3 linked regions of the Homo sapiens genome follow. The protein of the gene in region 1 interacts with the protein of each later gene in a pairwise test. Each region holds a gene or a part of one and is shown in the gene's direction. Other genes may lie near its edges.

Region 1 (10,957 bases):
GCTGTGCTGGTGGCGACCCTTGTGGTGCTTGGCAGGCTTCGGGAGAGGCGCATGAAGGATTTCATTGAGTGTGAAGACAGAGAGCAGAGACAGAAAGCAGAAGGAGGCGGCTGCAGCCTTTGTAGTCGCGGAGGAATGCGGAAATGTTGAAGCACTATGTCAAACTTTTTTTGAAATGGGGTCAAGTCACATTCAGCCAGCGTGGGAAAGCAACAACAACAACAAAAAAAAGTGGAGGAGAGGGGGGGAAAAGGCATTGCTGCTCCCGTTTCTCTCCGCCGAAGCCGACCGTCTGGGGGGCGAGTGGGGGGAGAGCCAGGGCAGTGCGGGGCCCGGCGGGGGCAGCAGGCGCAGTTCCCTGCGGGGGTGGGACGTCCCCGACGCTTCCTTCGCTGCGGAGCCCGGGGCTAGACTCGAGCGGGAGGGGGTTGGGGGGATGCAGGACAGGCGGGTTGGGCGGCCGGCGGCGGCTCCCCGGCTACCTGTGTGGCCCTCGACCTGGCTCAGACCCCCGGGCAGTCCCTGGGGGCTCTTTCCTCGGCTTTTAAGGAAAGTTCTGAATGTAGTGAGTGCCAGAAGCTCTGCTCTCGCCGCGGTCCGCTCCACCCGCTCATCGTGGGGGTCGCGCCGTTTGTTTAATTCCTGGCAAAAGGCGAGCGGGCCAGCGGTTGCGAGGCAGGTAATTCCGAGGTGCCCCGGGAATTCCGGACATGCGGCCGTCGTGGTGAAAGTCCTGCCGAGGCCGCGGCGGCCCTGGAGGAGGGAGGCCCCCTAGGTCCCAGATAGCTGCTGAATGGGGAGGGAAAGTTAGGGTACCCTACTCTGGCGCTTTGTTGTGCAGAGGGCTCCGGGGGCGTCCGGCTGCAGACTGGACCGGGCCTTTAGCCGGAGGGGGAATGGGGCAGCCACCTCTGCTACCTACAGCGGGGAGGTCCTGGGAATGGGAAAAGGTTCGCGAGTCCGGGCCCCGAGGACAGAGACCTTCTCTCTCACCCCTGGAGGCGCAGGATTTAACCCCCCACCCCCCACCCTTTGAAAGGGAGGTTGAGTTTTGCTCAGGTCGAAATCAGTTTAAAACTTAAGGACGAGGCGCGATTATGCTATCCCCTTCCTGAAGTTATTCTTTAAGGAGACGACAAGCGAAATTGTGGCGAACACCCCTTTCTCCCACCCTTGGGATCCCGTGGGGGACGGTGTCTCCCCTCCCCCAGGACCGCTCGCTCGCCCACCCCCGATAAGCCCCAACCCTCCCCGACCAGATGGCTGGTCTTCCCAAGGTTTCCACCAGGGAGGTCCTCCCAGCCGGAGAGAGAATTCCGTTTCCAACCGAGACTCCTTTACCCCAAAAAGACCATTTGTGTATGCGAGTCGTTTTTAAATGTCTCCTCGTAGAAAAACTGAAAGTAGAAAGAAAGGAAGCAATTTCTGAGCAGATGTCTGACCACCCCTTCTCGCACACTCCCAGCATCGGGTTACAGGGTCCTGGGAGCCCCCACCCACATTCTGCGGCCCCACACGGATGGACCCACAGTCCTTCCGCTCCAGCTTGTGCGCGACCCCTGAACGCCCTCCGGCACCCCTGGACCCCGTCTCCCTGCACGTCCGGGCCTCAGGAGGCGGGGAGGGTAGCGGCGCAACACAATGATATAGGGATAAATATTAAGCCGTGACATTGACGTGCCCGGCGCCTCCCCTCCCCCGCGCTCCCGGCACACTCTGGGCTGCTCGGCACGCCCCCTCCCGTTCCACTGCGTCCCGCGCCGCTCGCTCATCCCCGAGGGGCCCCTGCAACCTCTCCGCGCGAAGACGGCTTCAGCCCTGCAGGGAAAGAAAAGTAACTTCGCTTTTCTCGGAGGAACCAGGAAGGATTAAGCGGCTTGGGAGAGGGCAGGAGCGCGCGGAGGGTAGCGATGGAGGCTTCGTAAAGGAGGAGGAGGGGAGTCTGGAGGAACCCCGAGGAAGGCTTCTGGGCTGTCTGATTGCACTTTCTTCTTATCCTCCCGTCTCCTCCTTTAGGTGCAATGATTCTGGACTGAGACGCGCTTGGGCAGAGGCTATGTAATCGTGTCTGTGTTGAGGACTTCGCTTCGAGGAGGGAAGAGGAGGGATCGGCTCGCTCCTCCGGCGGCGGCGGCGGCGGCGACTCTGCAGGCGGAGTTTCGCGGCGGCGGCACCAGGGTTACGCCAGCCCCGCGGGGAGGTCTCTCCATCCAGCTTCTGCAGCGGCGAAAGCCCCAGCGCCCGAGCGCCTGAGCCGGCGGGGAGCAAGTAAAGCTAGACCGATCTCCGGGGAGCCCCGGAGTAGGCGAGCGGCGGCCGCCAGCTAGTTGAGCGCACCCCCCGCCCGCCCCAGCGGCGCCGCGGCGGGCGGCGTCCAGGCGGCATGGAGAAGGACGGCCTGTGCCGCGCTGACCAGCAGTACGAATGCGTGGCGGAGATCGGGGAGGGCGCCTATGGGAAGGTGTTCAAGGCCCGCGACTTGAAGAACGGAGGCCGTTTCGTGGCGTTGAAGCGCGTGCGGGTGCAGACCGGCGAGGAGGGCATGCCGCTCTCCACCATCCGCGAGGTGGCGGTGCTGAGGCACCTGGAGACCTTCGAGCACCCCAACGTGGTCAGGTGAGCCAGGGAGCTGCGCCCTCGCCATCTGGGGCCTCGCGCGCGCGGGGAGGGCCGAGCCGGGAATCCTCAGGCCCAGAAAGGTGCGGGGCAGAGGGCGACTGGGGAGGTCCTGCGCGACCTGTTGGTCTTACAGAGTGAGAGTTAAGTTTTGTCGACAGAGCCGCGAGCCAGAGCCGGTGACCTTGCCAGACAGCGAGCCGAAAGACAAGTCAAAAAAACATGACCTGAGCAGGCTTCCCTGCAGCTGTGCAACTTAGAAGCGTTTTCTCCCTGCCCACCCTGAAGGAGGGTCTGGGGGAAGTGGGTGCGTTTTAGGGACAGGATAAGCCAACCTGAGACATGCCCCGCTAGCCCCCGCATATTTTTCGTGGCCATGCCGTTGGGGAATTTTTGAAAGACAGAGTAGGTGAGACTGGAGAATGAGGATGCCGTGTGATAATCAGTGGGAACTTTATGGGTGGAGCCAAGTGTAAATCAGGTTAACAAGATGCAGAAACATCATAATATTTTTGCCAGTCATACTCTCAGTTTCTCTTTATTAAAGTTGCGTAGTAAGAATGACTCCTGGTGGTCTAAGGAGTTTGAGTGCTGATGCCCAATCTCAAACAGCGTCATAAAAATTTCTTCCAAAACTGTTATCCCTGTGTCTGTTTTACTTTATATCTCTGGGCGGACATACTCTTTAGACTAATTCTCCAAAGGGTTAAATGTGAGTCCAAGATGTGGTATGGTTAGATCATAAATGTTCTGCCCATGCTTTTCCCAGATGGATTGTGCGAGTGGGTGGGGAGACAGCAGTTCTTACTCTCTCCTGTGTGGTAACCAGTATTAAATGAAAATGTGTGACTTAGGATAATGGTGTTTTCTTAGTGATCCTGGAATTTCCCCATTGTGTGGTTGACATTGTTTGGTTGTGTCATCCTTTTCTTTTTTAAACAGAGATGCATAGCTTTACATTGAAAAGGAATGCCTAGAAACTTCTGCAAATTGGGTTGTGATTTTACCTTTCTCGATCTTGAGAAAATGTGTAGCAGAAATATCTTTTTTCTCATCCATTTAGGGCTTCTGTTCAACAAATACATGCCTACTGTGTGCGCTGAGGATGAAATGATGTAAATAAGCACAGCTAAATATTTTTGTAAAAAGTCAAACAATTTAACATTAGTCATCAAAGTGGAGAGACCCAAGACTGACCTTTGAAATACCAAACTCTCTACAGACTCAGAGAGACCAAATATCTACAGAATCTTCTTGGGAGGTTTTAACTTGTCTCCTCTTATCCCAGGCTGGTGATTTGTGCGGTGCTTTGTTCCCAACGCAGTTTAGACTCAAGCTAGAAGGCATCAAAGAATCATAAATATATAAATAAGGCAGTAAATGGTTATAAAGTTAAGACCGCATTATACCTCGGCCTAGCTAGTGAAGGAGAATGAGTGTTTTAGAAGATGAGATTATATATAAAAACCTATAGATGACTTTTTTTCATGTGTATTTTATTTGTTAAAAACAACAAAATCCGTTTTTGGGGCTCTTTGTGATATTGGAGGGAAAAGGGGAGGGTATATTTAGCCCCCTGTAACTCAGCTGTCGTCCTAGGGGAATCACCTAATACATCCCGAAGGATGAATTCCACCACTACAATTTTAAGACGGAAGTTCTTGTTTTATTTTGTCTGTTACCTATGGAGTATCCAGTTAAGGGTGCTTATCATGTATATGAATGAATAGTGTCCTTCCAAACGTAGAGGTACTACAGAGGCACCCCTGTATAACACTATTGTTTACAAAGCTTACGCCATTCTTATACCAGAGGCACACTTTCTGCCATTGTGCTTGTAGATTTTGTCTGATCCATCCTATTCTCTTGATTTATCCTCCTGAGATTGATGTGTTTCTAGACGTTTCTAACTGACCCATGACTTGGATTCTGTACTGTGAATTTCAGGAGGATATTCTTATGAACTGAAGACAAAGGCATTGTTTTCTAAAATTATTTTTACGTGTTAAGGTGATGATGGCACCTACCTGTTAAAGTCGTGAGAATAAAATGAGATGGCGTATGTGAAAGCACTTTGTAAATTTGAAAGTACTTCAGATATCTAAAGGATTGTTTGCGTTTCAGCAGATTGATGGTCTCTTGCCATGGAGCAGCTTCACAGGGAGGGGTCAATTCACCTGACCTTTTTTGTAGAACAAATCATATTCAAACCCAGACATTACAGGCTCTGGAACCAAGAAGATCCTTGAGGATAATTAGCCTGTAAGATGTCAGAAAAGACTCTCAGTCACGAGCCATGAAATTCAGTGATACTTGAGGAAATTATTGATGATGTCACCCTCATGAGCTACAGATCTTCATTCCCTTTTTGTTTCCTTCCTGTTTCTTCTCTTCTGCCTCTGCCTTGAAACAACCATTGGTCCCCATGACTTGCTTGGCCAGACTAAGAATTCTGGATTTTAGAGGCTGCGAATATTTGCTCAGACAGGGTCAGGAAATAAGGACAGTTGACAGCAATTCTTTTCTTTCCAAGGGAGAGTTGTCAAAGTTGGGTCCCCAAACCTGTGATTTACTATTGCCCCTGGGATTAGTTTTACAGTCTTAAGCCTGGTTCTTTAATGGTTTCTTAAAAGGGCAGATGCTTTTATAAGTACCTTCAAGTCATAAGTAATTGATCATAATTATAGGCCCTCCCCCACAGATAGTTAAGCCTCTAAGCTAACAGGAGCATAATAAACATATTAGTTTTTTCAAAAGTTTAAGATTTAATTTTGATGGATTTGCCAGAAAAGCTGACTTGTTATTGCTGGCACTGGTACTGCCTGCATGCACAGGGATAATGACTTGAAATTCTTGCTTACCTGCATTTGATGTATCCCAGGCCCTCGCCTGATCAGCCAGTGAGTGTCTGGGAAGTAAATTTACTCTTTTTTTACATTTGGTAATCCCAAATCCTGGAACCTTTGCCAGAATAGGACTTCACTGTGAACCTGTATTGGAGTTTCTGCACTGCACAAATGGATCCTGTTTGAACAGCCTGAACTAAAAACAATAGAGATAAAATTATAGCATGTTTTGTCAGCAGTCTGTTCATTCACCAAATATTTACTGAGGGTCCACTATGTGCCAGACTCTTCTAGAAGGTGGGGATATAGCAATGAACAAGCCTGGAAAAGTCTCCGCACTTGTAGAACTTGCCTTGTAATGAGATGAGCAGTTCTTTCTTCTCTTTAAAAATTTACTCATCTTTGTTTTAATTGCCTTGTTTTGTTATACTTAACCTAACCAGTTTTATAGAACAACTGATATTTCTGATAATTCGGTTACCAGGAATTTCCTGATTGAGTAGGCAACATAACCAAAAGGCTAATCAGAATCAAGTGCTTTTTGAAGATTAAATTTTACCTCCCTAACATAGGGATTGATCTATATGAGATACTGACACATAGCTAATATAAGTGAACATTTGAGCTCCATTTATTCAAAAAGGATTTAGGAAGGGCATATGCTTTAAAAACCATGGGGCTAGGTGCTGGGAAAGATACCAGGGTAAATCATACCTAGCTACTCTCCTGAAGCAGTTCTTCCCATGTTTGAAGGAATAAGATGATCACCATAACCCTGATACATGATAGGATCATGTGCTGTAAGAAAGATACAAGCCAGTGCTTACCTGTATTGTTTCTAGGGATTATATTTATTAGTGTAACAGTAAAAGCAATTCAAATTCAAGTATTGGCTCTGGAAACTAAAAGTCATTACATATCAGTGAATAAACTTGTGATGTTTAAATATTATAATTAGAATAGTCACTGCTTTAAAAACAAAACAAAAAACCCAAAGAAAAGGCTGTAAAGCTTAATGATTATTCAAGGAGAGTTTTCTAATTTTCTCTCTTTTTTAAAGATCTTAGTAATATATTGCATAAAAGGTGAGTAAAAATGTGATTTTCTCTGGAAAACCTAATTGTTAACAGGGTAAAAGAAACATGACATATTTGACTCTGTAAAGCCAGGTCTTCAATTGGATTAGTTCATGAGAATCCTTCTGAATAAAATTGCTATTTGTGTGGTTGAATAATACATTTACTAGGGCTTTTTTCAATAAAAGCAGGAAAAGCAGGAGTTTAATTCTCCTTTTAAATATCAGTATGTTAAAAGTATGTTTGTTCTTTCTGTCTCTGAGAGTTCCTTGAAAAGTTTCTGATTTTTCAAGGTTGTTTAGTAAATAAACATTTTCACAATGGTATTCTGCTCATTTTTTGTTCCTACAGAAGAACTTGATAATGCTGAATTTTTGACATTGCAGTTATATCCCTTTTATACAACCACTATCAACATAGAATTATTAGAATCTCTCTATGGAATCAAGGACAAAAAAGGTCTATAAGAGGAAAACTTGTATAAACTTGAATATCTTTGAGGATATTTTCCTATGTTTAAGACATGGGTAAATGAATATCTATGCAAATAGGTTCCTATTAAAAATAAATTATTTCTTTTTTAAAAAAACAAATGTCTCACTATTAATGATTTCTTAGGAAAGTTTTTTAAGAAGGAAACACAGCATACATGCAGCCTATCATTGTAAAACCATGGATATTAGGGTTGGAAGACACTCTGGAGGTCAAGCTACTTGTCTGTCATGCCATTTTAAAGTTATTGACTTGTTCTTAAAACTAAGTAGCAATTTTTGTTTGTTTGTTTGATGGAAGCAGTTAAATCGGGTGAGTACATTTCTAGTTTGGAAAAAATGAACTGTATGTAGACAAAAGTGACAGTTTGCCAGGAATGAATGACATAACGATAAATGAATAAAAATTCAGTAAATTCCTGAATTCTGCAGTATGCCATACTGAAGTATATCTCTACAAGAGTATTATTCCAGTAAATTCTTCTTTTAAGGAAGTTGTGCTATAATTATGATAATTTAAATTAATTATAATAATTTAAAATAGCTATAGTTAAATGATGATACAGGTAAATTATGCAGGTAATTCATTAATAATATTGAATTCATTTTAGACAAAGAGGAGTAGGAAAAATTGAAACACTTAGTACTTGTCTGATGAATGAAATATTACATAATGTGGCTCTGGCACATTATGTAACATTCTGGTTAATGAAATAAAAACATCATAATACTTAAAAATTAGATGGCATAATAACCATCAGACACATAAGCAAATATGTGTTTTCCATGCCTTCTGAGGAACTAATCACACTATTGTTCTTTCTCATGAGGTTCAGATGAGTTGCTCTGTCTTCATAGGAAGTAAATTAATTGTGAGCTTCTTGATGTAACAGAACACAGCAGAGATGAAATCTGGGTGTCAGTGAATTGTTAACAGGAGAAGTTAGTGTGTATGATGTTGGGCTTTGTCCAAGATCCAGGAGGCAGCACTGAAAACGCACCGGTGGTTGATAACAAGCATACTTACATGAAGGTCACTATTTGAGTGATGATCCATAGATGCTAGGTTTGGTGGAGCAGGCAGGCCAGCAATCAGAGAGATTTTTCCAAGAGCTGCTGGGTAGTTTTCTTGAATATCACCAGTTTGCTGCCATACCTGATTTTTATTTTACCAGCTGCACATGTAGCTGCTCTTGCCTGAGAGGTGAACCGGAGGGACTGCAAGGCATGTGGCAGGAATCTATGCAAGTGTACAGTTGTAGTCTGGAAGTCCATTTGAGTCAGGATTATTATTAAACATTTTTGACCATCTCCTTTGTCTATAGTAGTTTGCCGAAATTTGGATATCTACTGGCTTTGTAATTTAAGTAGCCACTTAAATTATTCCTATTCTCTGGCCTTCCTAAAGGATTTAGTTCAGTAGAATTAGAATCACAGCATAAGGATTTTTTTAATTGGAAGAAGTCTTAGATTTAACCTAGTGCAACCCCCTTTGATCTGTTTTATAATAATAAAATTTGAGTTGTTTTATGAATGCAAAAAATTATCTCACTGTTAGTGAACAGTTTTATTCTGTGATTGTATGCATTGTAGATATAAACTGATTGAGGATGGCTAAGATTCAGACAGAGGTTTATATTAAACATTGGTAAGACAGGATGACTGATGGTCATTGGATATACCAGAAAAAAATCCCTTGAGATGTAAAAGTATTTTCAGTTTAGTGACTTTATGTTTGCTGACTTGAGAACCAGGATTGTGTATTTTATATCCATAAATAACATGGTGTCCATAACCATTGGTTAACCCGTATATGTTTCCTGATTGATTGAAATTTTAAACCCCTTAGATAAGCACTTTTCATCGTTTTAGAGTTGTATACTGCATTAGCAAGTATCTTGGACTATTGACATTGGGAGATCTGTGGGTATTAACTGTAAGGCATACACATGTGAAGTCTATTTAGTAAGAGTCTTCAAATACTTACTCATATTTAAACTTTTCCTGACTATGCATTTTTTATCTTCAATATTGTACTTGCTTTGGCTTTGACAGGATATTCTCATGTTCTTCCTCTGTATTTGTTAACATGTATCCTACAGACAGATGGACTACTCCATTTGCCCTAATGGATTTCTTGCCATCCACCTCTATTACTTTAATTTGAACAGATCTCTGAATGTGCACTTGGTACCTCTCCTGCACCACTCTCCACCTGTTGAAATTCTGCTTATCCTTCAGGGCCAACCTCAAATGTCACTTTCTTTGTTCTGTATTCCTTAATACCTCGATTTGGATAACATTTCTGCTTCCTTTGAGTCCTGGTAACTTTGGACCTCCTTTATGGCACTTAGCTTGTATCTGTCCCCTTATATTATTTCTGTTATGTAAGATGGAATGTTAACTCCCATGACAGCCCTCTTCTGACTCTCTACTCTTTCACACCCTATTTGTAAGCTCTTTAAGGCAGAGAGTGTCTTGTGATTACATTCGTTTATATCCTGTATCCATTGGATATAAGGTGAATACGTAACAAGTGAGTGAAATCATTGAAAAGGGGTCCAGTTATAAAGGAAGACACCATATGAATTATTTCTATCATGTGAAATAATGTTAATACTAAGGAGTGTCAAGGAGGGAGAACGGATCTGCATATTGGATTACACTTATTGGGATTCCTGGGAAATAATTTAGGAAATACTGAAAAAAGGAAGTTTCATTTTTGTCTTACTCCAATCTACATAGTTTATATGAAAGTTTAAGTATAATTCATTCTTATAGTTAACTGTGCAACTTTGGACTTAATTTATATACTGCAAAGAAGACATTAACATTAGGAAATGAGCATACATTCAGCAAAAGCTGAAAATGATTTGAACATTTCAAATGTAAGAAAGTAAGGTATTATAAATACATTTTGATCAATTGCTTGAGTTCTTTTATTTTTCCCATTAATTTTAATTTCTTTGGCTTTCAATAGTGGAAAACCTGTTAGCAGAATTAGGTAAAACCTTCCTAATAATTTCTATAAAAGATGATGATTCTGAATTTCATTTGAGCCTTGTCTTCTACTCCTCTTCATAATTTGTGTACAGAGAATTTGGATTCCATCTTGACAAACTGGTAGGTTTAATTAAGAAGTATACTTCCAGTTTGAATTCATTCCAGTTTCTTAAGACACATATGGTTGGGGTGTGTGTGTGTGTGTGTGTGTGTGCACGCATGTGCATGCAGAACAGTGGAGTACAAGATTCTTGAAAGAAGGGACTGTGTTGTCTTGTTCCTTGCAGTATCCCAAGCATTTAGCATGATGTCTGGTGTCTTGTAACCCTGAATAAGTATTTCTAAATGACAGAATATGCGCCATTTAGAAATTCAGAATTTAATTTTTTTTAGTTAGAAATGAGTAATCATGTCTGAAAATACAGGTGAGGTCTCTGGCATTCAGCAAGTATTTATGAGTATCTGTTATATTCAACGCTTTGTTAAATGGGATTAAGGCAGTAGTCACAAAAAGTGCATATTGAAATGTTTACCCAAAAAATGGTATGTGGTCTGCAATTTGTTTCACAATGGGGTAGAGATGCAATAAGAATGAACTATGAGTTGATCACTGTTGAAACTGTGGAGTTTTATTGTACTAGTCTCTCTGCATTTATATATGTTTGAAATTTTCCATAATAAGTTTTTCAAATGTTCCTGCTTGTGGGCTAGGAGTCAGAAAACTGATTCTTATCCTGATTCCTCTGCTTATTATTTAATAGTTGAGTAACCTAGGGTAAATTCCTCATGTCTCTTGGCTGCCATATCCCCACAATAAAAATAGAAATTACTACTGCTCTTTAGACCTTAGTGGTTTACTCTGATCAAATGAAATTATGTATACAAAGATCCAATATTATACAAATATAAGGTATTATTAACAAAA
Region 2 (10,957 bases), on another chromosome or scaffold:
CACAGAGATATGACTAAAATAGTGCTTTAGACACATTTACTTGACATGTGATGGGTTTTGGACTGGAAGCAAGGAGACCAGTTAGAAGACTATTGCAATAGTGTGAGTGTGATGGGGCAGAAGGTAATATAGATATCAGTTTGGAGTTGAAGTAACAATTTATTTTCTCCTTTATGTTCTTCATCTGTTAGAATTCTTTTTTAAGGTCAGGTGTGATGGCTCACACCTGTAATCCCAGCACTTTGGGAGGTCAAGGCAGGCGGATCACCTGAGGTAGGGAGTTTGAGACCAGCCTGACCAACATGGAGAAACAACGTCTCTATTAAAAATACAAAATTAGCTGGGCACGGTAGCACATGCCTGTAATCCCGCTACTTGGGAGGCCAAGGCAGGAGAATCACTTGAACCAGGGAGGCGGAGGTTGCAGTGAGCCGAGATCGCGCCATTGCACTCCAGCCTGGGCAACAAGAGCAAAACTCCATCTCGGGAAAAAAAAAAAAATTCTTTTTTAAGTGGCATACTGGGGGAAAGACCAAACACATTATTTGATTGTAGTAGCTAATACCTTCCCTGGACTTTTCTTATGAAGGTGGTGTGTTCTATACCTCAAACTGTCCCCAGTCATGTGGCTGGTATCCTTGTCTTTGCATCCCAGGAATAATATTGATCAGTGTAGACACAGCATATGTCTCACCGTCCCTTTCTGAACTTCTCACTGCTGCTTCAGCTCTTTCAGAGAAAGTGTCTTCCCATCATCAAATGCCTTTTTCCTATGATGTGGCCTCTGTTTATGTAAGGCTCCCTCGGAGTAGATTACTGGTTCAAGGGCCCCAATTTGCACTAAGATCTGAGAAGAGCTCATTCCAACGTGCCAGCCACCCCCTTCCTCCTTCCTCCCAATGCTCAAATCCCCCATTCCTCCTTTAAAAGTAAGAGATTTGTTCTTCAGGTCACACTTGGAATAGTGTTTCCTGACTTCGTCCTATTTCCTAGATATCTGGCTAATTTCTCATTTTAGTTCTTCTCCCCAGCTAGAACCACTCTCTGCAAAAAAACCATGCCATGCCCAAGTCCTTTCTACAACTCCTCTACCATCCAGTGCAAATGCATAAAAAGTAACACACACAAACAGGTACACACACAGCCTAGGGTAAAGCATGCTCTGTTTTAAAGGAAGTGTCTTCCAGAGCCTGTGACTCTTCTCTGTTCAAAAATAGCACCTGCGAGTTAAGGTTTGGCCAGGAGCGTGGGATGAATTTCTTGCCTGCATCTCCCCAAATCACCCTTAGAGGTTCAGGCCTTGTCAGCGCCCATTTTATTGCCAGGAACATCCCCAAGCCTCTGAGTCCTGAGAGGCGCAGGTCTCTAAAATTCAGTACTCTCCCTTGAATCATCCCCATACTCTCTAATGGCTTCTTACACTTAGCATACTATCCAGAGCTGGTAAGGCCCTGTGGCTTACCCCCTCCATTGCTCATCTCCCTCCATTGCAGGTCTTGATCACTCCGACCCAGCCAAGCTGACTTGCTTGCTCTTCCTTGAACAAGTCAAGGTCCACACTTCAGGTCGTTTGCACCTGGTGTTCCCTGTGCTTGGAAAGCTCTCCCCTTCCCCGACGTCCACATGTCTTGCTCTCTAAATTTACATTCAGGTCTCAGCTTTAATGTCCCTCTTTATAGATGTCTTCTCTGACTGCCATCTCTGATATGGTCGATATGGTGCCCCCACCACCTTTTGTCTCCTTCCAGTACTTTTCTTCTTCCTTTTTTTTTGAGATGGAGTCTCTCTCGCTCTGTCGCCCAGGCTAGAGTGCAATGGTGTGATCTTGGCTTACTGTAACCTCCACCTCCCAGGTTCAAGTGATTCTCCTGCCTCAGCCTCCCGAATAGCTGGGATTACAGGCACGTGCCAACATGCCCGGCTAATTTTTGTATTTTTAGTAGAGACAGGGTTTTGCCATATTGGCCAGGCTGGTTTCAAACTCCTGAACTCAGGTGATCCACCCGCCTTGGCCTCCCAAAAGTGCTGGGATTACAGGCATGATCCACCGTACCCGGCCGTCTTTTTTTAAATTTTTAAATTTTTTTTATTTTTTAAAGACAACGTCTTGCTCTGTCGCCCAGGCTGGAGTGCAATGGCGATCATGGCTCACTGTAGCCTCGAACTCCTGGGCTCAAGTGATCCTCCCACTTCAGCCTTCTGAGCAGTGGGGACTACTGGTGCACACCACCATGCCCGGCTAATTTAAAAAAGGTTTGGTTTTGTTTTGTTTTGTTTTTAGAGACGGGGTCTTGCTGTGTTGCTTACGGTAGTCTCAATTTCCTAGCCTCAAGCAATCCTCCCGCCTCAGCCTCCTGAAGTGTTGGGATTATAGGCATGAGCTATGGCACCCAGCCAGGGACTCTTTTGACTAAGGGAGAGATCAAGATAATCCCCACTCCCTGAAGCCCTGTGCATTGGGAATTTAGATGACTGCTCATTTCCACATCAATTGTTACTTCCCATCTCTCAATTCTAGTGCTGGACCTACTATTAGGTTCTATACCTAAGAGCAGCAATTGTTGCTTTTTTCTCTTTCCCCTTCCAGGTTAGCACGATTCAAAGGGAGAATCTGTGTCCACTTGAGGTCCCTTATGTAGCAGGACTGCCCTGTAAATGTCTTCAGGAACCACTTGGCTCCAGTTGGAGCCTGGTCCTTTTTTGCTGGTTCAATAGGATCTTTCCATATGTTCTTTACAAGTATCTTTTTACACTTATTACTCATTCAGTTATCTTTTCTCCTTCCTCTCGAGTTGTGGTTTAAAATATGTATAATTACAATTATAAAGAGATATCTATCTATCTATCTATCTATCTATCTATCTATCTATCATCTGTCATCAAAGATATCCTGGCTTCTCTCCACACTACCAAATACTCTTTCTTATTTTTTAATTATAATTTTTATTTCAGATTCATGGGGTACACGTGCAGATTTGTTACAAGGGTATATATTGTGTGATGCTGAGGTTTGGGCTTGTATTGACTCTGCTACCGAGATAGTGAACATAGTACCCAATGGGAAGTTTTTCAGCTCTTTCCCCTCTCCCTCCCTCAGTCCTTTTGGACTTTTCCAGTGTCTATTGTTCCCGTCTTTTTTTTTTTTTTTTTTTTGAGACGGAGTCTCGCTCTATCACCCAGGCTGGAGTGCAGTGGCGCAAATTTGGCTCACTGCAAGCTCCGCCTCCCGGGTTCACGCCATTCTCCTGCTGCAGCCTCCCGAGTAGCTGGAACTATAGGTGCCTGCCACCACACCAGGCTAATTTTTTTTTTTTTTTTTTTGTATTTTTAGTACAGACGGGATTTCACCATGTTAGCCAGGATGGTCTCGATCTCCTGACCTTGTGATCCACCCGCCTCCGCCTCCCAAAGTGCTGGGATTAGAGGTGTGAGCCACCATGCCTGGCTGTTCCTGTCTTTATGTCCATGTGTACCCAAGGTTTAGCTCCCACTTATAAGTGAGAACATGCAATATTTGGTTTTCTGTTTCTGTGTTAATTTGCTTAGGATAATGGTCTCCAGCTGCATCTATGTTGCTGCAAAGGACATGATTTATGATTTCATTCTTTTGTATAGCTGTATAGTTTTCCATCAAATACCCTTTTTTTTTTTTTTTTTAGATGGAATCTCATTCTGTCACCAAGGGTGGAGTGCAGTGGCACATTCTTGGCTCACTGCAAGCTCCGCCTCCCGGGTTCAAGCGATTCTTGTGCCTCGGCCTCCTGAGTAGCTGGGATTACAAGCATGGGCCACCATGCCTGGCTAATTTTTTGTATTTATTAGAGACGGGGTTTCACCATGTTAGGCTGGTCTCGAACTCCTGACCCTCAGGTGATCCACCCACCTAGGCCTCCCAAAGTGCTGGGATTACAGGTGTGAGCCACTGTCCCTGGCCCAAATACCCTCTCTTTCTTTCTTTCTTTCTTTCTTTCTTTCTTTCTTTCCTTCCTTCCTTCCTTCCTTCCTTCCTTCCTTCCTTCCTTCCCTTCCTTCCTTCCTTCCTTCCTTTCTTTTTTTGAGACAGAGTCTTGCTCTGTCACCCAAGCTGGAGGGCAGTGGCATGATCTCTGCTCACTGCAACCTCTGCCTCCCGGGTTCAAGCAATTCTCCTGTCTCAGCCTCCAGAATAGCAGGGATTACAGGTGCCTGCCACCACACCTGGCTAATTTTTGTATTTTTAGTAGAGACGGGGTTTCACCATGTTGCCCAGGCTAGTCTTGAACCCTTGACCTTGTGAACCACCCGCCTCAGCCTCCCAAGTGTTGGGATTACAGGCGTGAGCCACCGCACCCGGCCCAAATACCCTTTCTTTAAATTGAAACTTTATTTTATTTTATTTATTTATTTTTTTGAGACGTAGTCTCGCTCTGTCGCCCAGGCTGGAGTGCAGTGGCTTGATCTCGGCTCACTGCAAGCTCTGCCTTCCAGGTTCACGCCATTCTCCTGCCTCAGCCTCCCGAGTAGCTGGGACTACAGGCGCCCGCCACCACGCCTGGCCAGTTTTTTGTATTTTTAGTAGAGTTGGGTTTTCACCGTGTTAGCCAGGATGGTCTCGATCTCCTGACCTCATGATCCGCCCACCTCGGCCTCCCAAAGTGCTGGGATTACAGGCATGAGCCGCTGTGCCTGGCCAGTAGTTGCATTTTTAGTTTTTCTTTTTTAAAATAAATTTGCAAACTGTTTTCCAGTATGGCTGTACCAGTTTACATTCCCACCAGCAAAGTATGACAGATTCAGTTTCTCTGCATCCTTACCAGCATTTGGTGTTTTGCATGCGTGTCTGTGCACGCACACCTATACACACACATATAGCCATTCTGATAGGTGTGTAGGAATATCTCATTGTGGTTTTAATTTGTATCTCCCTGGTGCAAATTAAATGGTGAGTTGGTCACAAGTACTCCAGGTTGCCGGTAGTTCCTTTTGTGTGTGTGTGTGTGTGTGTGATTTTTAAATTTCAAATATAAACATATATATATATATATATATATATATATTTTTTTTTTTTTTTTTTTTTTTTTTTTTGAGAGGGAGTTTCACTCTTGTTGCCCAGGCTGGAGTGCAATGGCGCGATCTCGGCTCACTACAACCTCCACCTCCTGGGTTCAAGCAATTCTCCTGCCTCAGCTTCCTGAGTAGCTGGGATTACAGGCATGCGCCACCACACCCAGCTAATTTTGTATTTTTAGTAGAGACAGGGTTTCTCCATGTTGGTCAGGCTGGTCTCGAACACCTGACCTCAGGTGATCTGCCTGCCTCAGCCTCCCAAAGTGCTGGGATTACAGGCATGAGCCACCGCGCCCGGCCTATAAATATATTTTTAAATTTTCTTTTTTTGGTGGAAGTGCTTTTTTTTTTTTTCTTTTGACATGGAGTTTTGCTCTCGTTGCCCAGGCTGGAGTGCAACGGCATGATCTGGGCTCACCGCAACCTCTGCCTCACAGATTCAAGTGATTCTTGTGCCTCGGCCTCCCAAGTAGCTGGGATTACAGGCATGTGCCACCACACCCGGCTAATTTTTGTATTTTTAGTAGAGACGGGGTTTCGCCATGTTGGTCAGGCTGGTCTCAAACTCCTGACCTAAGGTGATCCACCTGCCTCAGCCTCCCAAAGTCAGCCACCGCGCCTGGCCTAAATTTTCAATCAATATGTGCCAAGTGATTATTATTTAAAAATATTAGCTTGAGAAGAGTTCTCAGACTCAATTTTATTGTCATGAGCCTCTTACAGTGAGGTCTCACAGACTTCCTTTTTCCTTCATGCCACTGACTCTGAGACCATCTGGCACTGTGACACCTCTGTTGGGTAATCAAGCCATAAATCAAAATCTTTAGTCTCCAATTCCTGTATCGCCTTTCTCAAAACGCAGCCTGAGTCTGAAAAATAATGTACCTGTAACCAAGGACTCCAACACCTATTTAATCATCTATCAAACCTGAAATAAAAACCCAATTTTGGCCGGGCACGGTGGCTCACGCCTGTAATCCCAGCACTTTGAGATGCTGAGAGGGGCAGATCACATGAGGCCAGGAGTTTGAGACCAGCCTGGCCAAGATGGTGAAACCCCGTCTCTACTAAAAATACAAAAGTTAGCCGGGTGTGGTGACACATGCCTGTAATCCCAGCTACTTGGGAGGCTCAGGCACGAGAATCACTTGAACCCTGGAGGCAAAGTTTACAGTGAGCCAAGATTGCACCACTGGACTCCAGCCTGGGTGGTGGAGTGAGGTTCTGTCTCAAAACAAAACAAAACAAAACAAAACAAAACAAAACAGAACAAATCAATTTCCAGGTGATTCTATTTCGGAAATTGGAAGAAATTAGGGACTTTTGATCAGTCCATGCATTTTTGTCATAGACTTCAATTCTTTTCCAGGAAATAGTTTTGGGTATTTTTTTTGTTATTTATTTATAATTTTAGTTTAATTATTATTATCTTTTTTTGAGACAGGGTCTGTCTCTCTTGCCCCTGCTGGAGTGCAGTGGCATGCTCATGGCTCACTGCAGCCTCAACCTCCTGGGCTCAAGTGATTATCCCACCTCAGCTTTCCTAGTAGCTGGGACTACAGGCATGCACCACTACAGCTGGTTAAACTTCTGTATCTTTTTGTAGAGACGGAAATTTCCCCATTTTACCCAGGCTGGCCTTGATATCTTAGGCTTAAGCGACCATCTTGCCTTGGCCTCCCAAAGTGCTGGGATTACAGGTGTGAGTCACTGCCTACAGCCTGGTTTGTTTTTTAATTTTGTTTTGTTGTTATTGATTGTTTTTATTTTAAGGAATTTAGTAGCTCTAGATGCAGGCTTATCTTCAGTTTTCCACAGCCCTTGCTCACTTTCTTTTCATGGGAATGGCCTGGGCCTACCGTAGAAAGCATACTTCACAGTATATGGCTAGCCCTCTATATGAAAAATAAAACGTCAGAAAGTGTGCAATCCACCTCTCTCCAGCCTTAAAGGTGCAAAAAGCCTCAGAGTCACTTCAAAAGTGTTCTGACTTTGGAGACATATTCCAAGGACTGGCTCAACTTAGGTTCTATGTTATGCAACTAGACATTCAGCTAACAATTTGGCAGTCATGGCGAGGAAACATACACATGAGGCTCAATTCAAGGGTAGTAACTTAGTACGAAATGCAGTTGGTTCAAATGATTCTGGCTGGGATGCCAAATATGTAATTGAGATGTTTATGTTACCAGTATTATTAGTTCCCTTTTTCCTCTGTTAAATAGCTATTTACACACACACACACACACACACACACACACACACACACGTATATACAACACACTAGGACACCAAGTGGGTATTTTTGCAACCCAAACTAAAAATCCATAAGCATATGCATGGCAAACCGAATAGTAGAGATAAGAAAGAGAAGTATTCTTACACAGGAGGCTCTCACCTCCTCAAAATTCCCAAGTTGACATTTAATGTCAATGATGTTCATGCCATTGAAATAAACATAAAACAGGCATCTTTCTAACCCTCTGAAAGGCTGCCGTAATAACAGTGCTTAACGTTTATGAAGCATCTGCTGCGTCAGGCACCTTGCAAATGTTTTCCATTCATTGTGTTACGTGAGTCTTCCGACAACCTTGTGGAATAGGCAATCTTAGGGTCTACATTTGACAAATGGGGAAACTGAGGTCTAGAGAGGTTAGGAAACTTGCCAAATGTGTTAGAGCAAGTAATTGGCTAAACTGGGATTATAACCCATTTTTCTCTGACCCTAGAGCCTTGGCTCTTGATTGCAACACTGTGTTGCTTCTTTAGACTAGACTGAGATTCATGGACCATTTTAAGTTTGTAACCACCTTTGAGAGTCTGAATGGAGGACGTGGTTTTGCCTGGTTTTACTTCCTCCTCTAGAGTGCGGGGTCCATATTCCTCTGATGATAAGGGCCAGGAGAGCCATCTAAACAAAGTACTGCTTAGATCACTCCAAAGCCGGGGCCACTCACACTGCACCCCAGGAAACTGAACCTCTGTCCTTTCCAGCCCAGACTTTCTTCCACGGAGTGACACTGATTAGTTTGTAGGCCAGGTGAGGCATGATTTCATAACCATGGAGTAATCTGACCAGGGTCATGCAGGGGAGCAGCAGGCCTGCGGTATATAAATTCTCAAATACACATCTTCCATTTATTTCCTTATTTCTTTCTTTAAAAAAAAAAAATTTGGCCTAGGCATGGTGAATCATGCCTGTAATCCCAGCACTTTGGGAGGCTGAAGCAGGAGGATCTCTTGAGCTCAGGAGTTTGAGACCAACCTGGGCAACACAGAGAGAACACGCCTCCACAAAAAAAATAACAAATGAAATAAAATTTTAATTTTTTAAGAGACAGGGTCTCACTGTATCACCCAGGCTATGTACAGTGACATAATCATAGCTCACAGTAACCTGGAACTCCTGGGCTCTAGTGATCCTCCCTCCTCAGCCACTCAAGTAGCCACAGGTGTGTGCTAACACACCCTGCTAATTTTACATTTTGTAGGAATGGGGTCTCACTGTGTTGCCCAGGCTGGTCTCAAATTTCTGGCTTCAAGAGATCCTTCTGCCTTGGCATCTCAAAAAGCTGGGATTATAGGTATAAGCCACTGCACTCTCTCTCTATATATATAAAATCAAAGCCCCACCAATGCCACCTCCTTTTCTATTTTCCAAACTACTCCACCACCATGGTCTGCACCACTCCCTGTGAGGCCCCTCAAAGCTGTCCATGCCCATGTCTACATTAGGCTTCTCTACCCATCGTGTCATAACATTTCCTGTATTTCCATTTCTTTCTTTCTTTTTTTTTTTTTAAGGAGTCTTGCTCTGTCACTCAGGCTAGAGTGCAGTGGCGTGATCTCGGCTCACTGCAACCTCCACCTCCTGGGTTCAAGCAATTCTCCTGCCTCAGCCTCCCAAGTAGCTGGGATTACAGGCATGCGCCACCACGCCCAGCCAATTTTTTTTTGTATTTTTAGTAGAGATGCGGTTTCTCCATGTTGGTCAGGCTAGTCTGGAACTCCCGACCTCAGATGATCTGCCCGCCTCAGCCTCCCAAAGTGCTGGGATTACAGGCGTGAGCCACCACACCGGGCCTATTTTTAATTTTTATTTTTGAGACAGAGTTTTGCTCTTTTGCCCAGGCTGGAGTGCAATGGTGCGATCTTGGCTCACTGCAACCTCCTCTCCCCAGGTTCAAGTGATTCTCCTGCCTCAGCCACCCGAGTAGCTGGGATTATAGGTGCCCGCAATCACACCTGGCTAATTTTTGTATTTTTGGTAGAGACAGGGTTTCACCATGTTGGCCAGGCTGGTCTCAAACTCCTGACCTCAGGTGAACCACCTGCCTCGGTCTCCCAAAGTGCTAGAATTACAGGCGTGAGCCACCGCACCCGGCCTCTAAGAGGCTTTAAGAAGTGACTTTCCCATTGTGCTTAATCATTTTTGTTGAAGCCTTAAGGCAGACTACCTTGTTTGGGATTGGGCATCTGGGAAAAGAGATTTTGGCAGAGTCCTTAAAAATCTTGCTTTTCTTGGGTACAATGAGCTGGTCCAATACAATTAATCCATGAGAGAATCTTCAAATTCCATTTTCTGAGATGATTTGGAGGTTTGGAATAATAGAGCACTTTTTCTTAGCAACTCATTTGATATTTGAGTGTTGTTTGACATAATCATATCTTGGTCAACAGGTCCTTCAACCGGTGACCCCACTCTGAGGTAAGAATAACACTATCACAGTGCCCATTTAATTTGATCAAGAATCAATGGGTATTTAAGAGCTGTGCATGGTGGCACATGCGCCTATAATCCCAGCTACTCAGGAGGCTGAGGCAGGAGTAGGAGGATCGCTTGAGCCCAGGAGGTCAAGGCTGCAGTGAGCTATGATTGCACCACTGCACTGCAGCCGGGGTAACAGACTGAGACCCTGTCTCAAAAAAAAAAAAAAAAAGGAACTGTGGATATAGCTTTCTTTATTGTTCCTTTTCTCTTTTGCCATTTTCCATTCTTTCTTTCATTTTTGCCTTTTCCAGTTTCATTTTCTATGGTTATTGTTTTTTATATCTTTGCTCTTATGTCTTTTGATCTCTTTAAATAAATGATTTTCTAGCTTGCTTATCTGTTATTGTCTTACAATTTCTCTTCTTTTTTTAAATCGCATGCTTTTATAGCCATTAGTGAAATACCTGGGAAACTCATTTGTCACTTTAACTTCATCTTCGTTTTATAATGTCTGCCCATTTTTCAGACATAGGACAGGGAAGTCATGTTAAGGAATATATTATCTCTTGATAGGTGGAAGGATTGATCTATGTAGTAAATGAATGTGATACTTTAGGGATGAGTGGGAACTATTAGGATGTAATAAGCTTGTGACTTAACCATATTGCAAAGAAGAGTCTGCAGTTCAATTCTGAGTTTCCCTTGAGTTACAGCTTTCAGACATAGAGAGTGTTAAATCTAAAGACACCACTGAGAGCAAGTAGAATTTCTTTCTTATAGGAGTTAGTATATAGAATCCTAATGTGGAAGAATCTTGAGGCTAAATTGCTCTTTTGTCTGTTCTTGACAATACAATCTTGTTGGCAATTTGAGGCGTCAACACTTGAGAAAATCTGGTTAGAGTCCATTGAGGAATAGAAAAGATAAGGATTGGAACATAGCACCTCTAGGTGTAAAATAGAAAAGTTAGAATATAGCTAGGCATGGTGGGGCACACCTGTGGTCTCAGCTACTCAGGAGGCTGAGGCAGGAGAGTAGCTTGAGTCCAGGAAGGGGAGATCAGGCTGGCCAGCTTAGAGAGACCATGTCTTAAAAAAAAAAAAAAAAAAAAAGGGTTAGAATATAATGAAGGAAAATTTAAAAGAGAAACAAAGACACGCTTACACCTGAATTCAAGACTAAAACATAATGGTATTAGAG
Region 3 (10,957 bases), on another chromosome or scaffold:
GTTGCTTTCCCTCATCTGCACTTGGGTTTGTGCAACTGACTGAGTCACATAGAATCCTGGCTGCGTGGAGTTTTACAACAGTCGGCCTCACAGTACAAACACCGAAGGCCGCTTTTCTTGAAGGAAACACCTTCCATGGAGAGGCGATTGTGCATTGTGGGGCCAGGGTGTGATGAATGGGCAAGGACCCAGGACTCTGGCCAGTAGCGGGCACAGAGTGACTGAGAGGCAGAGGTAGGAGATGCAGATTCCCCAACCCGAGCTGTTGCCCTCACCTGCTCCTCAAATCGCACACTTCCCTCCTTTTCTCGCAGTCCTGGATGTTCCGTCCTGGAGCTGATGAAACACCTGCGGCCAGGGTCTCGGAGGTCCACAGTGGGTGGAGGGTGGGGGTCCCGAGAGATGGCCGCCAACCCTCAGGCCGTGCAGCTATTTGATGGGAAAAGCTGGTTGTGAAAGAGCTGGCAGTGGTTCTGCAGTGTGTGGGGAGCGTATTTGTGTGTGAAAGGGGAAGGGAGAGCAGGAGAACATAGAGGGGCCGCGTAAGTGTGGCGAAGTGGCGGTCTTGCTTTATGGGGCTCTGGATTAAGATGGTGGCAAGGCGGAGAGGAGCCCTCCTTCCTTCCCTGCTCAGCCTAAAATGGCTTCTGGAAGAGCAAGGGCCGCAAGCTGCTGGTATCCCTCTGCAGCAGGTCCTGGGCAGTGCAGGCATGGGTGGGTTGGGCGGGGGATCTTCCTGACTACAGCTCCTAGCATTCCTGTTCCTGGAGTTTCCAAAACTGGGGAAGCAGAACTGAGCCATAGCTTCCCTGGTTGCCGCTCTGCTGATAGAACACCCAGGTCTGCAAGCGAGGAAAGAAGGCCATTGGAGATGACCTGGGTTCGCACTCTGGCACTGGGAGATTGTTGAGATGTGATACCATGCTCGGTGGATGATTCCAGTTAGTCTAGCAGAGCCAATGGCATTGAGTTTACACCTGGCACCGGGTAGGGGGAGGTGCTCACCCTCCCTCTCCAGGCACCCACATCCCCTCTTTCTTCACTAGAAGCCCACCCTAAGATGCTGCACCTTGGTATTTGTGCCACACACGGTAGCCACCCCCAGGCCTCCCCACGCCAAGGCCAGAGCCCCATTGTTGACTAGAACCCATTGTGCTGTCCTAGCCCCTTCCCTGGCTTTACCTACAGGTGTTCCCTCAGATTCCATCGCCAAGTGAGAGGGAGACAGTGGTGGCCCAGAGAAGTTCGATGACTTGGCCCTTGATCTAGAGTGGGAGATTTCGCCTTGATGGGTGCTGGGAAGGAAGAATGGAAACCCGTCTTTCCATCTGCAAGTCTCTGAGCTACCCCTGAAGCCGCGAGGTCATGGGACTGAGGGGGAGTCGTTAGCATGCCCTGTGGGGACAAGCAGCCAGGCAGTGTGGTGCTTGCCATCGCTCTTCCCTCTGGCTGTAAGATGAATGGGTAGCAGGCTGCTCATCGCCCTCCAACCAGCCCCCTCCCCAGCTCCTCCCAGCAGGCCTTGCAGTTGCATGGGCATTCCCTTGCCATGGCAGCCCTGCCCCACAAGGACAGGGTATGCTGGTCCTCTTATGGGGGTGGCAGATGAGGTGCGTGCCCAGTGACGTCCCTGGCCTGTGAACACTCTGGTTCTGGCCCTTTGAACTTCCACCTGACTGCAGGTTGGAGAAGAGAGATGGGGAAAGCCTGACCTGGCCTTCCCTTTCTTCTTCAGCGTCAGAGTGCGTATCTCTCTCCCCCTATTGGTGAACAGAAGCAAAGCCATCACCCCTGCACCCCAAGACCTCGGCCACCATAGCCAAAATGATGGGTGCTAAATGTACTGGGCAGGACCATGTATTCCGTGGTTTTAAACTTACTTAGCTCTGAACTCTTTATTTGGTAAAATCCTACCAAGAAGTGCAGATACCAAGTTGATGAAATGGAGCACTTCTCAGGGCCCATGCCCAGGTGAGGGAGCCCAGCGGGACCCCCAGAGGCTCCCAGGGCATCCTTGGGAGGATAAGCCTTTTGTGCTTGCTGGTGCCGGGGCTGCGGCTGGGACCCAATTCCTTTGATTCCTGAGCCAGAGCGCCACCTTTGGGGCTCTTCTCCCACTTCCGACGTGAAAGGCTGCCCTGTCCTCCTGAGTGGTATATGGGAGGTGACTTTGAGGAGCTGGTCAGCTTCCAGTAAGTTACGAAGAGCTCTGCATCCAGAGTCTCAAAGTCTCATCCGGATCCCAGGCCCAACACTCACAGTGAGTGACATCAGCCAGATCACTTCATCTCCCAAGACTTCATTGATTCACCTGTAAAAGGAGATGTTTGAAACAGATGAATTTCAAGCTCCTTTTTATTAATACCTCACCATCATCACCGCCGTCATAAGCAAGCATGCAGCCCACAGCAGAGCTGCCCCTGGCGCCTGTGGGTCCAGCTGGGATTCCCCTAAGGTGTGTCCTTTGCCTCCACCATTTTGCCAGGAGGGAGGCGGGAATGTCGGGTGTTCCTGGTTATCTGGGCATCGTTCCTTGGCTCGGGTGAACTGCATCTCAATGAATTGTGGAATGTGCTGGGTTAGAGTTGCCAACTTCTCTCTTCCATTCGCTGAGTGTTCATGGGGTTCTTTTCATTCCCCTGTGGGGCTGCACTTTCTCCCAGTTCTGCAAAGCAGCAGGAGGCTTTGGGGACTCGATGATGTCATTTCTGGGACACATACACAACTGGATAGTGACAGATTCTCCAGGAAGCACAGAGCCCTCATTCTTCCTGGCCTGCTTGGCCTGCTCCCTGCATCTGCCTGCAATCCAGGGATGCTGGGCGCCTTTCTCCTCATCCCTCCAGACGCTGGAGAGCATCTCCAGTCGGAACTCCCCACCACAGTCCTGCAGGAAGTACTAGGAGTGAGAGCAGAGGAGGGGCAGGTTGGGGAGGATGCTGGCTGACATTCATTGCTTACCTTGAACCAGGCACTGTGCTTTTACAAGGATTATTTTAAGTGAATCCTCAGAACAGCACTACAACGTGGGTATTGCTGTTGTCATTATTTGCAGATCAGAAAATGAAAACTCAGAGAGGTCAGGTAACTTGCTCATCTTCACACACTTGGTAGGTGGTGGGATGGAGATTCCACCTCCTTCTGATTCCAGAGCTAATACTCTGAACCAGTGAGCTGTGTTCTCCAGAGGTCTGCTTTGGTTGGAGGGGAGCTGGAGCCCTAGGCCCTGGGACGGCCTCTGTTGCCCATGGCAAGGCGTGTGGCTGCTCCTGCTCTCTTCAGATCTCCAGATGCAGCAACCTGGAGAAAGGCCCTCCTGGGTCTGGTGGGGACTGGGGCAGGAGTGGAGGCTGCCCAAGCTCCGTGCACTCCACGTTCCAGCTTGGAGCTTTTTGAGTCTACTCTCCAAATCCTTCCCATCTCCCTGAAGAGTCTTCTGAGAAGTGTCTCAAATGCTCCTCTTCACTCAAGAGCCTCCTTTCTTTTTTTTTTTCTTTTCTTTTTCTTTTTTTTTTTTGAGACAGTCTTGCTCTGTCACCCAGGCTGGAGTGCATGGCACAATCTCTGCTCACTGCAACCTCCAACTCCCGGGTTCAAGTGATTCTCTTGCCCAAGCCTCCAGAATAGCTGGGATTACAGGCGCGTGCCACCATGCCTGGCTAATTTTTGTATTTTTAGTACAGACAGGGTTTCACCGTGTTGGCCAGACTGGTCTCGAACTTCGGACCTCAGGTCATCTGCCCACCTCGGCCTCCCAAAGTGCTAGGATTACACTGTGAGCCACTGCGCCCAGCCTTCAAGAGCCCCCTTTCTTTGAGAAGTTTCTTCAGAAGTTATCCATATAGTAGTACAGACCTAGCCATTATAGCACACCATCCTCTACTATCTAATGCATTGATGCCCAGCCTTAAGAAGTCTGAATATTGTACGTTTTGGGGGGAGTCCTCCATGCTGCCTGGAACAGGGAGGAGCACATTGTCATGAGTCGATCAGAATGGATCGCTGATCGGTTCATTGCCTCTCTCTCTGCTGCAGGAGGAAGGATCTCAGGAAGTCACCAGCATCTCACCTCTCCAGGTGGGCAATTAACGATGGCGAGGGCACACCCTCACCCCTGAGCGTGCCTTCTGCACCAGCATATTGCTTGTTGGCATTTTTGATCAAGAGACTTAACAGACTGCTGAGAAATTTGTACCTGGTTTTTATTTGTTAAAATAATATTACGTACAAATTTTACAAACTCATCTGTGTTTCTCCCACCTAACAGAACAGCTTTTATTTTCCGTGCATCCTTCCAGTTCATCCATAGGCATATATGTATGTATTTACCCATGGTTGTAATCTTCATCGTCGCATGCATGCATGCAATTTGGTTTTCCGCTTCCTTCTTCTGAGTGGATATTGTGACCATTTCTCCATCCTGTCATAGCGACAAAGCTGATGGTTTCCAGGAATGGCTGCATTGGGTAGGTGGAGCTTTCCACAGTTGAGGGTGGGGGTTGGCTAATTACAGCTAGGAAGCTAGTGCACAGATGAAATGATGTTTGATTTTTTTGTTTTTCTCTCTGTTCAGTATCCCCTACCAGTAGAGAGGGGGATGTCCTTGAGAGTGGTCCTGGGGCAGCCCTGGTGCCACGGGGAAGTAGCGCCGCTCTGTGGAGAGGGCTGCTTTGTGAATTTGCCGGCTGGTAGACACCGTGATCCATTCTATTGTCTCCTCATTGTTCTTCTCCTTGGGAGTCATTCCCATTCCAGATCCTCAAGTAAGAGCAAAGTAGACCTGTAAGGCACCTGGGAGGTTATCCTGCTTACTATCTTTAAACTCTTGACCTAAGCCATGTAGGAAGAAACACATTTTATAACACAACTCAGGATACTTGTACAAGTATATCAAACTGATACAAAAGTTTCTCCGAACAATATTTACTCTTAACGACATACGGTGAGCCTGATACTTTCTATCCTACTCTATTTGGTTAAAGGAGAACAACAACAGAAAGTGCTGGTCACGACCCACAAATGCATTTCATGACCCATTAATGAGTTGCAGCTAGAAGTTAGAAAAACACTTATCTCACCCAACCCGTTATTAGACAAATGGGAAACCAAGCCCTTGGAAAGAGGAAGTGACTTGCCCACAGTCCCACGTCTGGACCTAGCTGGAGGGCTGATGTTGCCTCAGTATTTGACTAACCTGGAGGAGAGGTGGGGCATGCTCAGGGATCCCGAGGAAGATGCTCGTCTTCTGTGTAGCGGGCAACAGAGGGCAGCACGGCCGCCGTCCTCGTCTCCAGCGGCGTCTCTCCTCTGGCTGTGGGAACACACTGCTCCTTTGGTGCCACTCTGAGCTGCTGAGAGGCAGTCAAGTTCATGCACATAGTGCTCCCCAATTCTGTGGGATTGGACAGTGTCCCCAAGAGGACTCCCCTGAAAATCTTCTTAGTAAAACAAAAAGGGAGGTAGAGTCTCCCTGTGCAACCGGTGCACCTGTTCCCCCTATGCCTGCTGGCTTCCAGAAGTTCATTCGTATGCCAATAATAAGAGTTGGTTTTGCTAGCAGTGGGACAGCAGAGATGGGCATGTGTGAGGTGTGCTTCCCGGTCTGAGGCCTATGGCAGAGGGAAGGGAGGGCCGGGGATACTTGCCTGCCTCTTCCCTGGCAGATGCTCCCACCCGGGCCTTTGTGGGCCCAGGGCCATGGGCCGGCTGCCCCGCTTGTGTTATGAATGTCACAGGGGGGAGCTAACGAGGTTATTGGGCAGAGAAACACTCTCCTGTGACCCATGTGGAAGAGACCTACAGCAGAGCAAGAGGCAGGGAGGCTGGCTTTGTCACACTGTTCATGGCGACAGAGAAGGCGTAGGAGGGGCGGGTGGACAGCAGGCGTGGGCGCAGCACCATTATATACGTCCCTCAAGAGGTGGAGATGGTGAGAGGGCAATGGAGAAAAAGCCAAGGAGACAGGCAGATGGCCAGGTTTGCTCTGCGTTCATGATGGGAGGGGAGGGCTGTGCTTGGCTCAGGGATCCACGGTGTCTAACAATGCTGCTAACTTGATGCTGGGGCAATGGGCTGACCATTAAAAGAGCTGCTGTAGAAAGTGTGTTTGTAATAGAGTGTGTACAGGAGGAAGGGGAAATAGGAGAGGGGCTGGTTTTTGTAGATTTAACCTGATTGTTTTTGCTGTAAGTTGAAGGGTGACCCACGGTTCCCTGTATGCTGTGTCTCCTGCCCCCACGTGCCCCTTCCATGTCTACACACAGTAAGCTCACTAGAGCAATGCTAAAACGAGAAAGAGTACGCTTTGGAAGACTTGCTGCACTCCAGGACCGTCACTAGCGTGATGGCTGCAACTATACCCACCCTAATATCTGTCAACACGAGCAGGGGCAACTTAAACTCTCAAAAGTCTCAGGGTTCTCACCCATACCATTAGGGTGACGCTCGTGTGCATCTTCTGTGGCTGATGGGTAAATTAAACAGGACGTAATGTGTAGCGTACTGCATGTGGTGGTCATTGGTAGCTGTCAGCAGCTGTAACAGGAGAAGTTGGCTGTCTTTATTTCCCCTCGATGGACCAAGCAGCTGCTGGATCATGGCCACCCAGCCCCTCTGAAGGAGTGCTCGGAGGAACACAAGGGGGCTGGTCTTCCAAGAGGAGCCCTCTAGCATGGCAGTGGACGGGGTTCAAGCCCCTCTGATTTATTATCCTCATTCTGCACTTCCCTGTAGCAAGTCACATTTTTTTCTCTTAGCAATAAAATGGGGCCTTCAGTCTCATGAGTCATAACATCGAAACCGAGTCACCCATCTGATTCGGATGCAATGATTAATCTTCAGTGCTTAGTTAGAGCCCTATGTTAGGGTTAGAATCCTCTGCCCTAATGTTCTGAGGGTTCTTGCTGTTGGGCCAGAGGTTGGGAACTGGGTGGAACTCAGCCCCCACTCGCCCACTCCCTGCATTGCTGCTTCTCTCATTTCCTTTTTTAGATCAAACCTTTTTTTTTTTTTTTTGGGTGGGGGTCATATTAATCCTCAATGCCTGTCCAGAGACTATAACAAGATCCCATCTGAATTAGCATTATGCATAGATTTTGCCCGTTTCTCCCATCTCCTTGTACTTTCCCTCCTTCTCACATCTGGAGCCCCTGGTCTGTCCTGCTTGCATGGCCCATGGGGTACCTTGTCTGCACTGGTCTCAGGCATTCTCTGCTCTGTTCCCACCATCACCTCTAGAGGAGACTATGACTCGCTCACCTTGCTCCCCCCACCAGGGTCAAGAATGTTAACTCAGACATGCTTAATATGACTGGGATCTGGGGATTGGGGACCTTGAATCCTCTGTGCATTCATTGTGTGCGCTTAGATAAGCTGTCTTCCTTCCCTGCCTCAGTCTCCTTCGTTTAATCTGGAACAGCCATGGTGATGGCAAATAAACACAGGCTCCTTGTGAAAGAACTCGAGGGAGGACATGCCTGTAGGGCACGGGGTCACTCGCGCCGCTGACCTGCTGCCGTCCTGTTTCTGAGTCTCTGCAGTCTCGGGAGCTCCAGGATCCAAATTCGTTCTGTGCCCTGACCTTCTGCCTCTCATTCCTTGCAGACTTTAAGTTTGCCATGTACCCACCGTCGATGATCGCAACTGGAAGTGTGGGAGCAGCCATCTGTGGGCTCCAGCAGGATGAGGAAGTGAGCTCGCTCACTTGTGATGCCCTGACTGAGCTGCTGGCTAAGATCACCAACACAGACGTGGTAGGTGGCCACCACCTTCTTGGCTAAGTCCAGATGTCTCTTCTCAGCTCAGGGAAGGAGACGACGGATTTGATTATGTTGTGTCAGAGGTATTTTTCTGGTTTGTTTCCTAAGATCGACATCCAAGGGAGTGCAAAGTTCAGCAGGTGACACCCCCTCTTAAGGTTCTGAAAAGCTGTGCACGGGAAAATACGGAAGAAAACTCAGCAAGCAGATGAAGGGGGTGGGGGTGGGAGGGCTGTTTACCGATGTTCCTTTATGGCGTGGGCTTCTCAGTGGGTCTGAATTGTTGCTTCATTGCCATATTTGTACACGCTGCCAGGCTGCCTCTGCCCGGCAGCGAAGAGCTGCCGTGTCTGCTTTCACACGCTGAGGCTGTAAGGCGCACAGAGGAGAAAGGAGAGCCAGGACTCAGCTGCAGTGGATGGAGCAGACACACAAGAGGTGCCCCACTGTGAGAACGGTGTCCGTCCCTGGCAAACCTCTCGACCCCTCCCCGCTCTCTCTTCCCTTTTGTTCAATGCAGTAATGGATTACAAAGTGCTTTCAAAAGACAAAGTGCCATACAAACTCAAGAAACTATTATTAGCTACGGAGCTTCCCCATTCTGTGTGCCCTGTGGACGGCCCAGAGGCTGTTAACTTCCTGTTGCCAGAATTTGGAGCTCCTGAGAAGAAAGGTTTTGAGAGAGACCAGGGTCAAGTGAGCCTCTGAATTCAATCAGCAGGAAGCTGCAGTCCTAGCCCGTCCGAGACAGGATGGTGCCAAGAGGTCAGAGAGGCCATTCCTTCGTTTTCCACGGGCAGGACAGGGACTGAAGTAACCAGCCAGGAGCGGGGTGGGCAGTGGCTGAGCTGGGGCTAGAACCCCCAGGCTCCGACTGCCCCCTGGAAACTTCCCACTCCACCCTTGTTGCCGCTCCTGGGATCTTTTGGTTTGAAAAAAAACCCTGGGGTTTAAAGTCAACCTGAGAGAGGGGTGTTGGCCCTGAGCCCTCATGCATCACCATGGAGAGGCTGAAGAATGCTGGGCACTTCACGATGACACCCTCTGGATGGTCCGGGGGGATTCAGATGCCCTCTGCGGGCTTTTATTGAGTTAAGGGATCATGTGGTTTATAGGCCTATGGCTGAGGCCTGCACGAGGGATACGGGACAGGTTAAACCTCAGAGAGCCCACGGCTGCAGCTCGCCGGCCTCCTCGCCCGCCCACCTGGATTTTCCCTGGCATTTGTTCCCAGCTCAGAGAAATGGCGCAGGGAGATGCTGACGGAGCAAATCCGGGGTCCTCCTCTGAGATAGTTCGTAGATATGGTTTTAAAATGCGGGCTCCAAACATACGCTTTTTAAACGAGGACTCCAGAACACAGACTGAAAACCTCCCTCCAGTGCAGCATGAAGAATGCTTTTCTAATCCTCCAGAGGAAAATCGTGGACGGGACTTAACGTTTATAGAAATGGTACGCTTTCCTCCTTTTCTGAATGTCTCCAATTAAGGCTGCCTTACAAATAGGACTCTCAGCCAGTTTAAGACAAGCCCTTCCTCAATGCCTGGAGACAAAAATGTCAGTGACAGGAGTTGGAAGCGGCCACCCCCCTCCTCCTGCCCCCAGGCATTGTAACCTTTTCCCCCGATGTTGATAGACCTGCTCTGATGGGCTGACCACCCTACCGGCTCCAGCCTTTTCCCACCTCCCTTTGTCCCCCGTTACTGATCTCACATGGACAGTGGTGGAAATTTCCCTCCTGGGAGTTGCTGCTGAGTCTCTTGGCTTTTCGAGACCGCAGGCAAGTCAGTCCGTCATCTCATCTGGGGAAACTGTTTGCCTTTTTCTGATACTACGTAGCCAGTCCATTTAAGTCAGCTGGCCAACTCTGTTAAATGGATATGAAGTGGGTACGAAGCTGGTTTAGGGGTGTCCTCCTATAAATCCTAACTGTTGGTCAAGTTGATACCTCATTTCTATAATGGGCACACGCCGTGTTTCCTAACTGGGGCTGCCTGTGTGTGCCTCATTCACACCGGTGGACCTGGGTTGAACATGTTCATATTTAAAAACCAAGAGTGAACGCGGTGAAATGTACAATTCATAACACTTTTTCAAAGAAAAATCTGAGCCCTCAGGAAGTTCCAGGCTTACCTCTGGCACCCCGGAGGCTGGTTCGCTCTCCCTGAAAATGTTTTTAGTGGAAAGGTTCAAGCAGCTCTGGGCTAGGCTGTGTGTGTGTGTGTGTGTGTGTGTGTTTATGCACCTTTCCAAGTGCTAAATCTCCTCCCATCCATCAGCCTGTGTTCTCTGAAAAGCTGACGCTCAGAGGGAAGAAAAATAAAAGGACTAGAATTTAGAACACATTAGTGTTTGGAGGGAGGTGAGTTGTGCTTCCTGAGCTCTGTTTACCATTTCACGAGTCACGAAGTGGTGTATTTCCTTCATTCGTTTCTGGAAGTCTTTACTGAAGGCCCAGTTGTTGCTAGAAGTTGGGGTGGATGGTGGCATCTGGGAAATAGAGGATGAGATTCCTGCCTTCAAGGAACTTAGCAGTTGTATGATGAAGCAAGAGTAAAGCGTGCAAAACCCTAGCAAATTAAGAACGTAAACAAAGGTGTGCTACGTAACGTGTTACGAACCCTAAATGCAGTAGGAAATCAACCCAAAAGAAGGAGCTCATCAGGCCTAACGTAGAATGCCGGCCTCCCAGCAGAGAAAACTTGGTGATAGAAACTGTTCTTAGAGTAGAGAAACAAAATGTATGGGCACGCAATGGAATATTATTCAACCTTAAAAAGAAATGAAATTCCGATCCATGTTATAACATGGGCGAACCTTGAAAATACTATGTTAAGTGAAACGAGCCAGACACAAAAAGACAAATACTGTATGATTCCACTTATACCAGGTACCTGGAATAGTCAAATTCGTAGAGACAGAAAGTAGAATAGAGGTTCCCAGGAGTCTGGGGAGAGGAGAGGATGGGGAGTTAGTGTTTAATGCGTACGGAGTTTCAGTTTGGGATGATGAAAACAATTCTGTAGATGGAGAGTTCTGATGGCCACACAGCAGTGTGAATGTACTTAATGCCACTGTACATTTAAAAGTGGCTGAAAAGGGAAATTTGACATTATGTGTATTTATGATAGTAAAATGTGTGTGTGTATATATGTATATACACACACATACATAAATGGATATATATATATGTATGTAT

Evidence for each region.
Region 2: the proteins of CDK6 (region 1) and APOBEC1 interact in binary tests that used the Homo sapiens proteins (3 or more experiments, as listed by UniProt).
Region 3: the proteins of CDK6 (region 1) and CCND2 interact in a two-hybrid assay, tested with the Homo sapiens proteins (2 studies listed by BioGRID, with this or other methods).

What each region holds. Positions count from the first base shown.
Region 1 is NC_000007.14:92,824,750-92,835,706, reverse strand, and holds part of CDK6 (cyclin-dependent kinase 6), read left to right. Parts: intron 1-1,747; exon of another isoform or gene 1,748-1,904; intron 1,905-2,016; 5' UTR 2,017-2,383; coding exon 2,384-2,616; intron 2,617-10,957. UniProt on the Homo sapiens protein: Serine/threonine-protein kinase involved in the control of the cell cycle and differentiation; promotes G1/S transition. Phosphorylates pRB/RB1 and NPM1.
Region 2 is NC_000012.12:7,653,402-7,664,358, reverse strand, and holds part of APOBEC1 (C->U-editing enzyme APOBEC-1), read left to right. Parts: intron 1-9,726; coding exon 9,727-9,754; intron 9,755-10,957. UniProt on the Homo sapiens protein: Cytidine deaminase catalyzing the cytidine to uridine postranscriptional editing of a variety of mRNAs. Form complexes with cofactors that confer differential editing activity and selectivity.
Region 3 is NC_000012.12:4,281,240-4,292,196, forward strand, and holds part of CCND2 (G1/S-specific cyclin-D2), read left to right. Parts: intron 1-7,602; coding exon 7,603-7,751; intron 7,752-10,957. UniProt on the Homo sapiens protein: Regulatory component of the cyclin D2-CDK4 (DC) complex that phosphorylates and inhibits members of the retinoblastoma (RB) protein family including RB1 and regulates the cell-cycle during G(1)/S transition.